Linked DNA regions of Homo sapiens. The protein of the gene in region 3 purifies or fractionates together with the protein of the main gene of each other region. This does not show direct contact. Each region holds a gene or a part of one and is shown on either strand. Other genes may lie near its edges. The genes, in order: ACTR2, ARPC2 and ARL14EP.

The links.
Region 1: the proteins of ARL14EP (region 3) and ACTR2 purify together in Homo sapiens (affinity purification with mass spectrometry; one large-scale study listed by BioGRID and IntAct). This does not show direct contact.
Region 2: the proteins of ARL14EP (region 3) and ARPC2 purify together in Homo sapiens (affinity purification with mass spectrometry; one large-scale study listed by BioGRID and IntAct). This does not show direct contact.

The regions. Positions count from the first base shown.
Region 1 is NC_000002.12:65,234,260-65,237,915, reverse strand, and holds part of ACTR2 (actin-related protein 2), read right to left. Parts: intron 1-3,656. UniProt on the Homo sapiens protein: ATP-binding component of the Arp2/3 complex, a multiprotein complex that mediates actin polymerization upon stimulation by nucleation-promoting factor (NPF).
Region 2 is NC_000002.12:218,223,538-218,227,193, forward strand, and holds part of ARPC2 (actin-related protein 2/3 complex subunit 2), read left to right. Parts: intron 1-2,382; coding exon 2,383-2,417; intron 2,418-3,656. UniProt on the Homo sapiens protein: Actin-binding component of the Arp2/3 complex, a multiprotein complex that mediates actin polymerization upon stimulation by nucleation-promoting factor (NPF).
Region 3 is NC_000011.10:30,329,536-30,333,191, reverse strand, and holds part of ARL14EP (ARL14 effector protein), read right to left. Parts: intron 2,307-3,656; 5' UTR 2,244-2,306; coding exon 1,818-2,243; intron 327-1,817; coding exon 199-326; intron 1-198.

The DNA.
Region 1 (3,656 bases), on a different chromosome or scaffold from region 3:
CCCCCGCCCACGGGTTCAAGTGATTCTCGTGCCTCAGCCTTCTGAGTAGCTGGGACTACAGGTGTACCTCACCACGCCCAGGTAATTCTTTTTATTTTTAGTAGAGACGGGGTTTCACCATGTTGTCCTCAAACTCCTGACCTCAAGTGGTCCACCTGCCTCGGCCTCCCAAAGTGCTGGGATTACAGGAGTGAGCCACCACGCCTAGCGTAAGTTTTAAAATTTTTTGTAGAGATGGGGTCTCACTATGTTGCACGGGCTGGTCTGGAACTCCTGGCCTCCAATGATCCTCCTGTCTCAGCCTCCTGAGTTGCTGGGATTACAGACATGAGCCACTGTGCCCGGCAGTTACAAATTCTTGTATAGTCTGTTTACGCTGGGCCCAGTGGCTCACACCTGTAATTCCAGCACTTTGGGAGGCTTAGGCAGGTAGATCACTTGAGCCCAGAAGCTCGAGACCAGTATGGGCAACACGGCAAGATTCCCCCCCGGAAAAAATTACAAAAAATTTAAAAATTGGCCAGGCATTGTGGCATGTGCTATAGTCCCAGCTATTCCAGAGACTGAGGTGGGAGGATCACTTGAGCCTGGGAGGTTAAGGCTGCCGTGATCATGTGAGACCCTGTCTCAAAAAACATACAAAAAATAAATAATACATAGTCTAGTAAGAGCAGACATTGCAAGGAAAGGGCAATTAAAAATTTCAGGGTGGGAGGAGGAAGCTATATAAGAAAGGAAATGTAATCATAGTCTGCACCCTCTTTAACAAGCATTTATTTAATGTTAGCTACACTGTGTTTACTGATGAATTCCAACTGCCTAGAACAGCGTCTGGCACATAATAGGTACACAGTAAATGATCAATAAATATTAAAAGTTTTGCTGTTGACTTAACAGTATGATACCATGATTGTTTTAAAATATATTTAATATTCAGAAAAAGTCTGTTTTTCTATGGCTCCAGGCACCACACATTCTTAGAATTAAGGATGAAAAATAGTACCTGAATGTGATACATGACAGTAATAAAACAAAGGTAGACAGAAAAGAGCAATGTACCTCTTGATAGAAGGCTACTATGCACACCACTTGAATCACATGAGGCCAGAAGTTTGAGATCAGCCTGACCAACATGATGGAAACCCATCTCTACTAAAACCAACAAAAATTAGCCAGGTATGGTGGTGCATGCCTGTAATCCCAGTTACTTGGGAGGCTGAGGTATGAGAATCACTTGAACCTGGGAGGCGGAGGTTGCAGTGAGCTGAGATCACGCCACTGCACTCCAGCCTGGGCAACAGAATGAGACCTGTCTCAAAAAAAACAAAACAAAACAAAACAAAACCCAAAAAAACAAAAAACCAACAACAAAAGAAAGCTACTATCTACAAGAAACTCTTTTGTTTAATGCGGTAAAACTTAGCAAGATCTTATGTAGCTCTCCAAAACATAAAAATTTGGTATTTTCAAAGATCTCTACAGCAGCCCTGTTGGAGATGACGCTGATGAACCACATTTAATTATAAATAGCCTAGGACATTCTGCCATCCAGAATTTCACTTGTCTTTTTTTTTTTTTTTGAGATGGAGTCTCGCTCTGTCACCCAGGCTGGAGTGCAGTGACGTCATCGCAGCTCACTGCAACCTCTGCCTCCTAGGTTCCAGCAATTCTGCCTCAGCCTCCCAAGTAGCTGGGACTACAGGCGCCTGCCACCACGCCCAGCTAATTTTTGTATTTTTAGTAGAGACGGGGTTTCACCATGTTGGCCAGGCTGGTCTCTAACTCCTGACCTCATGTAATCCACCAGCCTGGGGCTTACAGGCATAAGCCACCGCACCCGGCCCCACTTAGTCTTTTAAAAACAGAGTTTTTTCAAATATGTTACAGTCATGACAATCAGATTAAAGCTTTTATGAAAAATTCGTCTGAAATGAGGAAAGTTCACACTCCCAATGCCACCTCAATTCCTATCCTTTCACCTCATGTTTACATTTTATTAATAGAAACTACATAAAACATATTATTCAGATGTCTTCTTACAAGCCCACAAACCTAGTCTTAGTTTATATTGAGCCACCAAGGTAAGGGCATTTTTCAGGTACAGCTATCCATTTCTAAAAGTATAATACAATTCTTTTGGATTATTTTATTTTATTTTATTGAGACTGAGTCTCACTCGGTCATCCAGGCTGGAGTGCAGTGGCGTGATCTCGGCTCATTGCAACCTCTGCCTCCTGGGTTCAAGCAATTCTCCTGCCTCAGCCTCCTGAGTAGATGGGATTACAGGCGCTCGCCACTGCACCTGGCTAATTTTTGTATTTTTAGTAGAGAAGGGGTTTCACCAAGTTGGTCAAGATGGTCTCAATCTCCTGACCTCGTGATCCACTCGCCTCAGCCTCTCAAAGTGCTGGGATTACAGGCGTGAGCCACGGCACCCAGCCTGGATTACTTTTTAAGGCAGAAGTTAGCATGATATGATAGCATATGCAATAGATAACCCACTTGCTCACAGCTATTTCCCCTTGGCAGTGGTTGATAGTGATGAACTGGAATACACTTCCCACCCTTAAAATGAACAGAATTCAGGAGTAGTAGTTCATTTTTTCTCAGTGTCTTCTTAAATAATGTGACCTAAGACATGGAGGAAAAACTACCTCAGAGGAAAAGAATAACATCTAGTATTTTTTAGTATTTTCAAACTAAAACATAACACACACACCACGTGCACACACACACACACACACACCTCTCACACACTCTTCTCTCCCAAATCACAAACTCTCTTTTAAGTCAAAATCCAGTTTACTTGATACAAACTTAAATGATATGGAAGAGAATCTGTTCTCATCATTATCCCTATTGTTCCCACATTTCTGTATAACATCTGTCATGATCGCCAGCCTAATGTCAGTCATAATTTACACAAATATCTCAAATATGGGAATTAAATACTATTTTGATATTAAATTATTATGCCTACCTCCAAGTAATAAACAGATATAGTCAAAAGTATCCATTTATCCGGATGAAAATGCTCACTTATATGCGTATAAATTATCTCAAAAAAATTATAGAATGAATGAATGAATGAAAAGAGAACCTACCAGTTTGTAAGGTTCATTTTTGGCATGCTGAATGCAAATAAATAAGTTTACTAAGTGAGAAATCGTAAGAGAAGCTGGAGGTGGCAGGAGGAGCCTGGGATGGAGCATAGGTCTGATCCTAGTGCAGGGAAGAGGCTGCTAAGGTTGACACGTCTCCCCTCTCCTTCAGAGCTACACACACTGGACATACAACATGGCAAAGTGGCAAATAATCACATCACTCAAAGTCTTCCAATTATAATCGTTCAGATGGGTAGTTCGTATCTTAACATTCTTATGAGTATATTTTAAGCAACAAACATTTCCCAAGTTAGAAGACAAAAACTGAAATCCCTGAAACTATAAAAACAACTGTAAACCTACTATTACTGCCTAACAAAAAAAAAGACTTTTCATTCAAATTAAAGATTATCAATCACTTATTAATAAAACTATTCTGCTTGAGCAGTAGTTTATTGGAAGCAGATGTTGCCATAGAACTCAGCACCAGTTTTCATACAGGGTATATATTCATCCATCAAGATAGCAAAAATTGCACTATTTCACATTACT
Region 2 (3,656 bases), on a different chromosome or scaffold from region 3:
CTGGGTGTCTTGGAACATATCCCCCACAGATAAGGGGAGACTGCTGTACTGCTGGACATATATCATCTCAGTCTTCACACCAACCTGGGAGGTAGATGTTTTGTCCCCATTTTGTAGAAGAGGAACCTGAGGCCCGGTGACATTTGAGGAGCATTGCCTGTGGTCACATAGCCAATAAATTCTGAATTCTAAATAACTTGCTTTTTCTCACCCCCAGCATCTGAAATTTTAGCAGCTGGTAGAACAGTAAATAATGTAACTATTAATTCTGGGGGCCTATTTAGTGGAACACTTTTCCTGGGCCAGTCTTCCTCCCGCTCCTTTGTAATTTTAAACCACAGAAGTAAAATAACAAACGCCAGGTCTTGGAATTGAGAAGCAATCTTGTGATGGTATACTTCACGCTCAGCAAACTCATCGTTAAGGCACTGAGTTCTCGGACCTCTAACTCCCAGAAGACTTCCCATGAAGTCTCCTTTGGCCTAATACTCTCCTCAGCAGCCATTCTCTCTCTTCTAGCCATAAATAGTAAACTAAAATATTAATGAATGTGATTTGACAAATATTGCTAAGTCAGACAGCAGACCACTTAAGATCGATCGTAGCAACTTTTCCCACAAGGATCTGTGCTCAGGATACTTTATGCCTAGAGAAATTTGAAATTAGAGACTCAAAGTGTGTATGACTTGGAGCCCAAAGGTTATTTATTTATAGTTGGTTTTTCTCAGGTCTTTTGACAAAGTAGGAGAGTGAGGAACTCAGCCCTTCTTTGGCTGAATTAAAACCTAAAGGTTAAAAAAAAACTTACTAAGTGATGTAATAATGGGCTTTTATAAACTCCCTGACTCTTCAGCACAGTCAGCCTTCCCCAGGAAAGTATGCTTCCATGCTTCCTCCCATTGGTCATCCTCTTAATATTTCATTCAGTTGGTCCATGATTAACATTTCCATATTTTTGTTCTTTGCTCTTGTTTTCTAGAGGTGAGGAATGGTATTGGACTCGTTGCCTTTGTTTCCTGGCTACAGTTTCAAAATGAAGGCTCAGAAGCAATTTAAATTTTCATCTAGTTTTTTCCTTCTATTCTGAACTCTCTGCTTCTCCGTAAACCCACTTGATACTTCAATTCGTAGAGATACCCAGTGCGCTTTTCCTAAGTCACATATAGGGCTTTGAAGAAGCAAGGTGAAGCTTTGTATGATTCGTATAGGTTGATTTTTCAGCAGGGCTAGCATGCTTCATAGAAGCCAGTTTTTTTGAAAGGTATTGTCTGGCTTCTATATCAGCTTTTTAACACTCATAAACCATGTTATATATTCCATTATTTCCCAGCATCCCTGGAGAGCAACTTAGTCTTCGTTTCTTTCGCAGGTAATGGAGCAGAGATCGTGGAAAGATACGTACTTGATTAAGAGGTCTTGAGCAAGTTAGACAAAAATAAATGTGAAAACATGCGCATCTTGTTTGCTAGCCCCTAAAACAAAGTGGAATCATTGAGTTTACAGGTAGCTAGCTGGTAAGGCAATAGTCTTCATTTGCTTCCTACTTTGGACTTCAGGTCTGTTCTTGTGTTATATGTAGTAGTTCCATGAGGTAAATAGGTTCATTTTTATTCCCCCATTTTATTGATGATAGGGGAGAATGCAAAGGTGTAAGGGTATTTGTCCCAAAACATGAGCGTGATGAGAAAGCTAAAGTTGTAAAGCAGATGTCCTGACTATTCTTAGTGATTTCATAGTGTTATTTTGTGTTACACTGTCTATTTTAAGTTCCGAGCTGGAATTTACAAAGCAAGACAAAACTAGGGTAGAACTAAAGAGGGTTTCTTGAAGGTGAGTGGTAAGTACTTTGGTGATGTAAAGGAAGAAAGAAAGATGAGTAGGAAGGCTTACAGACGGGTTTTGAAGTGGAATAGAACTTGCCGTTTTGTTTATGGCCCGAAATCATCCTTTCTCTTTAAGCATATTAAAACCATTCTACATTATACTTAGCCATTTTCCTGCTGAACGTTTTACTCCTAATACCACTGTCCTGTGGGGAAGGCATTGACCAAAAGATGGCATTTTGTGGTATATAGCATGTTGTTAGGAAATTCAGAATTGAAAGTGAGCACCAACCAAAGCAGTAGATTCAACAGCAGGTGAAAAACAAAAGCTATAGCTGGCCTTCCTTTTTTATCTGACCTTCCTTTTTTATCCTCTACTTAAAGCAAGTCCAAAGGTTCAGGTCCATGAGAAAATGAATTGTGTACTCTGATTGGCAGTAACCTAAAATTTATACAGAATGGTCTGATCTTAAGTGAAGCTCAGGTGCCTTTCCAGTTCCCTTTGAAGGTAAGCAGCAATACAGTCATCTTAACTGAGGACCTTTTTTGTTGTTTACAGAAACAAACCGGAAGCAGTAGAAGTAACATTTGCAGGTAAGCATCTTTATCTCAGCCCTCTGAAGAGAAGGTACAATATGAAAAATAGGAAATAGGCTGGGTGCAGTGGCACATGCCTGTAATCCCAGCACTTTGGGAGTCCGAGGCAGGTGGATCACCTGATGTCAAGAGTTAAAGAACAGCCTGGCAAACATGGTGAAACCCCCTCTACTAAAAATACAAAAATTAGCCGGGCATGGTGGTGGGCACCTGTAATCCCAGCTACTCGGAAGGCTGAGGCAGGAGAATCACTTGAACTGGGAGGCAGGAGTTGCTGTGAGCTGAGATCACACCACTGCACTCCAGCCTGGGCGATACAGTGAGACTGTCTCAAAAAAAAAAAGAGAGAGACAAGAAAAGAAAATTGTACCTAAAATAAGCTTTGACATGGATTGGGTGCGGTAGCTCATGCATGTAATCCCAGCACTTTGGGAGGCCACGGCAGGCGGATCACGACGTCAGGAGATCGAGACTATCCTGGCTAACATGATGAAACCCTGTCTGTACTAAAAATACAAAAAATTAGCTGGGCATGGTGGCGGGCACCTGTAGTCCCAGCTACTCCGGAGGCCGAGGCAGGAGAATGGCATGAACCCAGGAGGCGGAGCTTGCAGTGAGCAGACATCGCGCCACTGCACTCCAGCCTGGGCGACAGTGAGACTCCATCTCAAAAAAAAAAAAAAAAAAAAAAAGCTTTGACATTTTGGATACTGTCCCTCATCAGGTCTTTTTGAGCTCTTTATAATAGATGACCATTTCATGTATTTAATCCACTGATGACTGACAATATAAAGTTACCTGCTGATAAATTAGAAGTTTGGATTTAATTTTGTGGTAAAACTGAGGTTTTTTTGTTGTGTTTTTTTTTTAATTTGGAAATATTACATTATCTTCAAGTAGCTGTCAGTCTTAGTTTGCCTAGCACTAGAGTAGTAGGGAAACATGAACAGCTAGAGATGTGTTCATCAAGTCAGAGAGAGATGTTGCTGCTTTCTGTTCCCTATAAAGAATTAGGTGTTGGTACTATTTACTTGTTAGGTGAATGAACTCAGAGGAATACAACCACCCTTTCTACAACAAGAGTCCTCGACAAGATGATCTTGGAAGACTTTTGCAGCTCTGAAGTGCTGTTACCTGGAGGCCAGGCACCATCCCTTTACCCTCCTACTAACTGGCATTGCCAGATATCCCTTCGTGATTCCCATGACAGCTCCATAAAGTGATGGCACTCAGCAC
Region 3 (3,656 bases):
TAGAAACAAATTTTTGTAGTTGAAAGGGATACCTTAATTTTATATGAATAAAAACAAAGGCCTTCATAGGTTTTTACTAATTCTACATTATCCAATTTAAAATATGAACCCAGAAAATTCAAAATTTAAGAGAAAAATAGGGGAACAATGCAGATGTGAAGCAGCAAGTTAACATGTCTTCAGTAACACTTAGCCTACCTGTCTGAACCAGCGGTTGCATTTTTTGTAAGCCTTCTTTTTTCTCTTTTACCAGTTTCTGGAGCAAATTCAGTTTGCCTTCCTGGATTCGTAAATTGTAATGACCTCAAAGCTTTAGCAGTTCTTCCCTGAAGAAAGGTAAACAAATTATCAACTCAAATCTTGACAACAGACAACAGATTAACATTTTATTTAATGTTAAACCAGACGATTCCCTAACATGGAAGACAGTCTGGAACACACAAAAAAGAAAACAAGGTTTTAGAGCCTAAGTGCAAGAAAATTTACATGGCCCTAGACCATATTCAAAGCATATTGGTTAATGTATTAGTAACATTTCCATTATTTTATTTTAGTCTCTGGTATATTAGGAGCAGAGGAGGAAGGCATTGTGAAAACTGCAATGGCTGCTGCCAACACAGGAGAGAAGGCACAAAAACTGCTATATAATCCAGTGGCACATAACTGATTTCCTAACAATCCTGGGTCCTTATTATTGTATTTTATATATTTTTAAGAGCAGAGAATATGATTTCAAGTTCTAGAATAGTATTATAATCTTTTTGAAAAGTTTTGGTGAAACAAAATTTCGGTGTTTAAGGGTTTATGTTTGTTATTTGGGGAGGAAAGAGCTGCAGCTGATATATTCTACAAGAACATTGGATAGATAAGGTGAAGACATCTACAATGACACTATCAGCAAGTATCTAGTATGAACTACAGATAAACTGGGCCCTCAAGATGTTCCTCTGAGAAGACAACAACAGGAAAATAGTATAATTTCAAATTTCAACTATCTTTTAACTTGGTTTAATAAAAAGGAGAAAACTGAGAAAAATATTCCAGCAGTAAGAATTATGAAATAATTACAAGTAAAAATTCTGAGATGTGCTTCTTTGATATACTTGTCCTACACAAAAGATAGCTTTATGAAAACTTAAGTTGTTCTGATATGGTTAAATATGCATGTAGGCATGTCAATAGGAATAGAGGTAAAATATTTAATACTTTACAATGTAAAAATGTATTATTTTTTTTTTACCTCAAGGAGTCCTAAAATTAGCCTTGACCATATCAAGTAGGAATTCAGAACTAGAAGCAAAGAAAATTCACAAGCATTTAAAAAACTCAAGAACGAGACAGTGTCAAAGGAGAAAAAAAGAGTGAAATAAAAAACAATTACTGTAAGTCACCTCTCTAATGTTCCTTTTAAAGCAGTGATTTCCAAGTCCTTCATATAAAGGCGAAGTCATCCTGCTGCAAAGACCCTTGGTGGTTGCCATGTCCCGTGTAGTTACTTTGGTATCAGAAAAGAAACTAAATCCTGGCTTGGCCAGAATATTCTAAAACCCACTCCTAAAGTCTTCGCACTAAAAGTTGTAGCTTGGAGTCTTAGGCATATTTTATTATTACTTTCCCAGGCCTACTTTCTTTATCCCCCAATCTTGACCTTCAGTATATGTGAATAATATTTAGAAACATCATCCACTTTCACCCCTCCTTTTAATTCACTGTATGCTAACAAATTTAGTAATAATGTAAATATGATTTTCTTATAGTTAAGCAAAATCCTACATGGTAGAATTCACAATGTAGAAAAAAATGACTATTACACATACATCTGACTCAGGTTTCCTTTTCTGGCGGTCTTCAGTATCAACATCCACACTTCCATTGATTATCTGTGTGCATTTTGGACAAAGCTTCCAACCAGGTACAAGCTGTCTTCCAAATTTAGCACTCAGAAAAGTGGCATCATCTAAGTCAATTACATGCAAATTTTTTTTGGCTAATTTCTTGTGTATGTTAAATGGGTCACAACATGACTTCTGTAAATCCTCAAATCTGTCAATGTAAATTTTTACATGATGAAAGCAAATTGTATTGTTCCCAGAAAGTGTCATTCCAGTTCTAAGTTGAAGTAAAAGCATATCATTTGATGACAATTCTTGCAAAGTCTTAAAACCTGTGTGACGAGTATAGTAGGTTTTATGGCACTCATTTGTAGTACGAAGCTGGACTCCAACTGAACATGGATCCATCATTCTTGATTCTAGCAAATTTTCCGTTTTATTTTGTCTGGAGGTTTAGGTCATGGGCTGATCACCCTAGAGAAAATATTAAAGAGAATCAAATTTGTGCTGCAAGTTTATCTAGGAAACTGAAAAAGCATTTGATAAAATTCAACACCTATCTAAAAGAAAATAAGGAATAAAAAAGGTATTTATCGAAGTCTTATAATAGACATTTAATAATCAAACAGAAGCGTTCCCTGTAAAGTCAGAACTTCACGAAAACATCTGCAATTACAGATTATATTTAAGACCACATAAGAATTAAAAAGGAGGAAATAAGAAATATTATCCTAAGATACATGAGAAATACAAGAGGTTTAACAAACTATTAGAACTAATAAGAGAATTCACCAGGGATGCTAGAAACCAAAAAACACTGTATCTTACAAAATATGTGACTCTTACAAAAGACATACAACAAGACCTTCATGGAGAAAATTATCAAACTGCAAGACAAAAACGGTACCCTAAATAAATGCAGCTATATATCATGGAGTGGCTCATTATAAAAAATATGTCAATTATCTGGGAATACATCTGTAAATTCAGTTCTGTTACAATCAAAGTTCCATCAGATATTCTACTGCCACCCCCTTGGAATTTAGCAAGCTGGTCTATATGAAAGAGCAAAGGTCTAAGAAAGCCAAGGTAATCCTGAAGGAAAATACAGTAACATATTGATTTACTTTAAACCTATTCTAATTAAAACTATGGTATTGGTATAGTATAAACAAACAGATCCATGAGTAGATGAGGGCTCAGTATATGACATGTGGTACTATTAATCGATGGGTATCACACACTAATGAAGAAGGGACTTTAACCATATGGAAAAACAATTAGATCTCTTCTGCACAAACAAAAATCAATAACAAGTGGATTAAAGATTTAAACATGAAAAGAAAAACTAAACATGTTTATGAGAAAATAAAGAAGGTTTTCTGACATGGAAGTATGGAAGAATTTTTCAAACAAGCAAGCAGATACCAAAAAAATAAATAAATAAAAAGATGGATATATTTGATTATATGTAAAATTTACACATTTCTGTATAACTAAAGGAGAAAAAAAAAGACACTTGAAAGGTGTTAGGATTATTATCATAAATATTCGAGTAACTCCTCACTTCCAAAAATCAATTAGAAAATGACAGAGTCCACTGGAAAACTAAACAAATATAGTCAGGCAATTCACAGAGAAAGAGAACAAAAGCCAATACATGCATACAAACTGTTTCCCCCATAGTTCCTAGGAAAATGCAAATTAAATATCATTTATTAAACATTTGCTTGAAATCAATTTAAAAATCTGATATCTGGTTAAGATGTGTCCAACTCTCACATGCTCCTTATAATAACTTTGGTAGGAATGTAAATTGCTGCA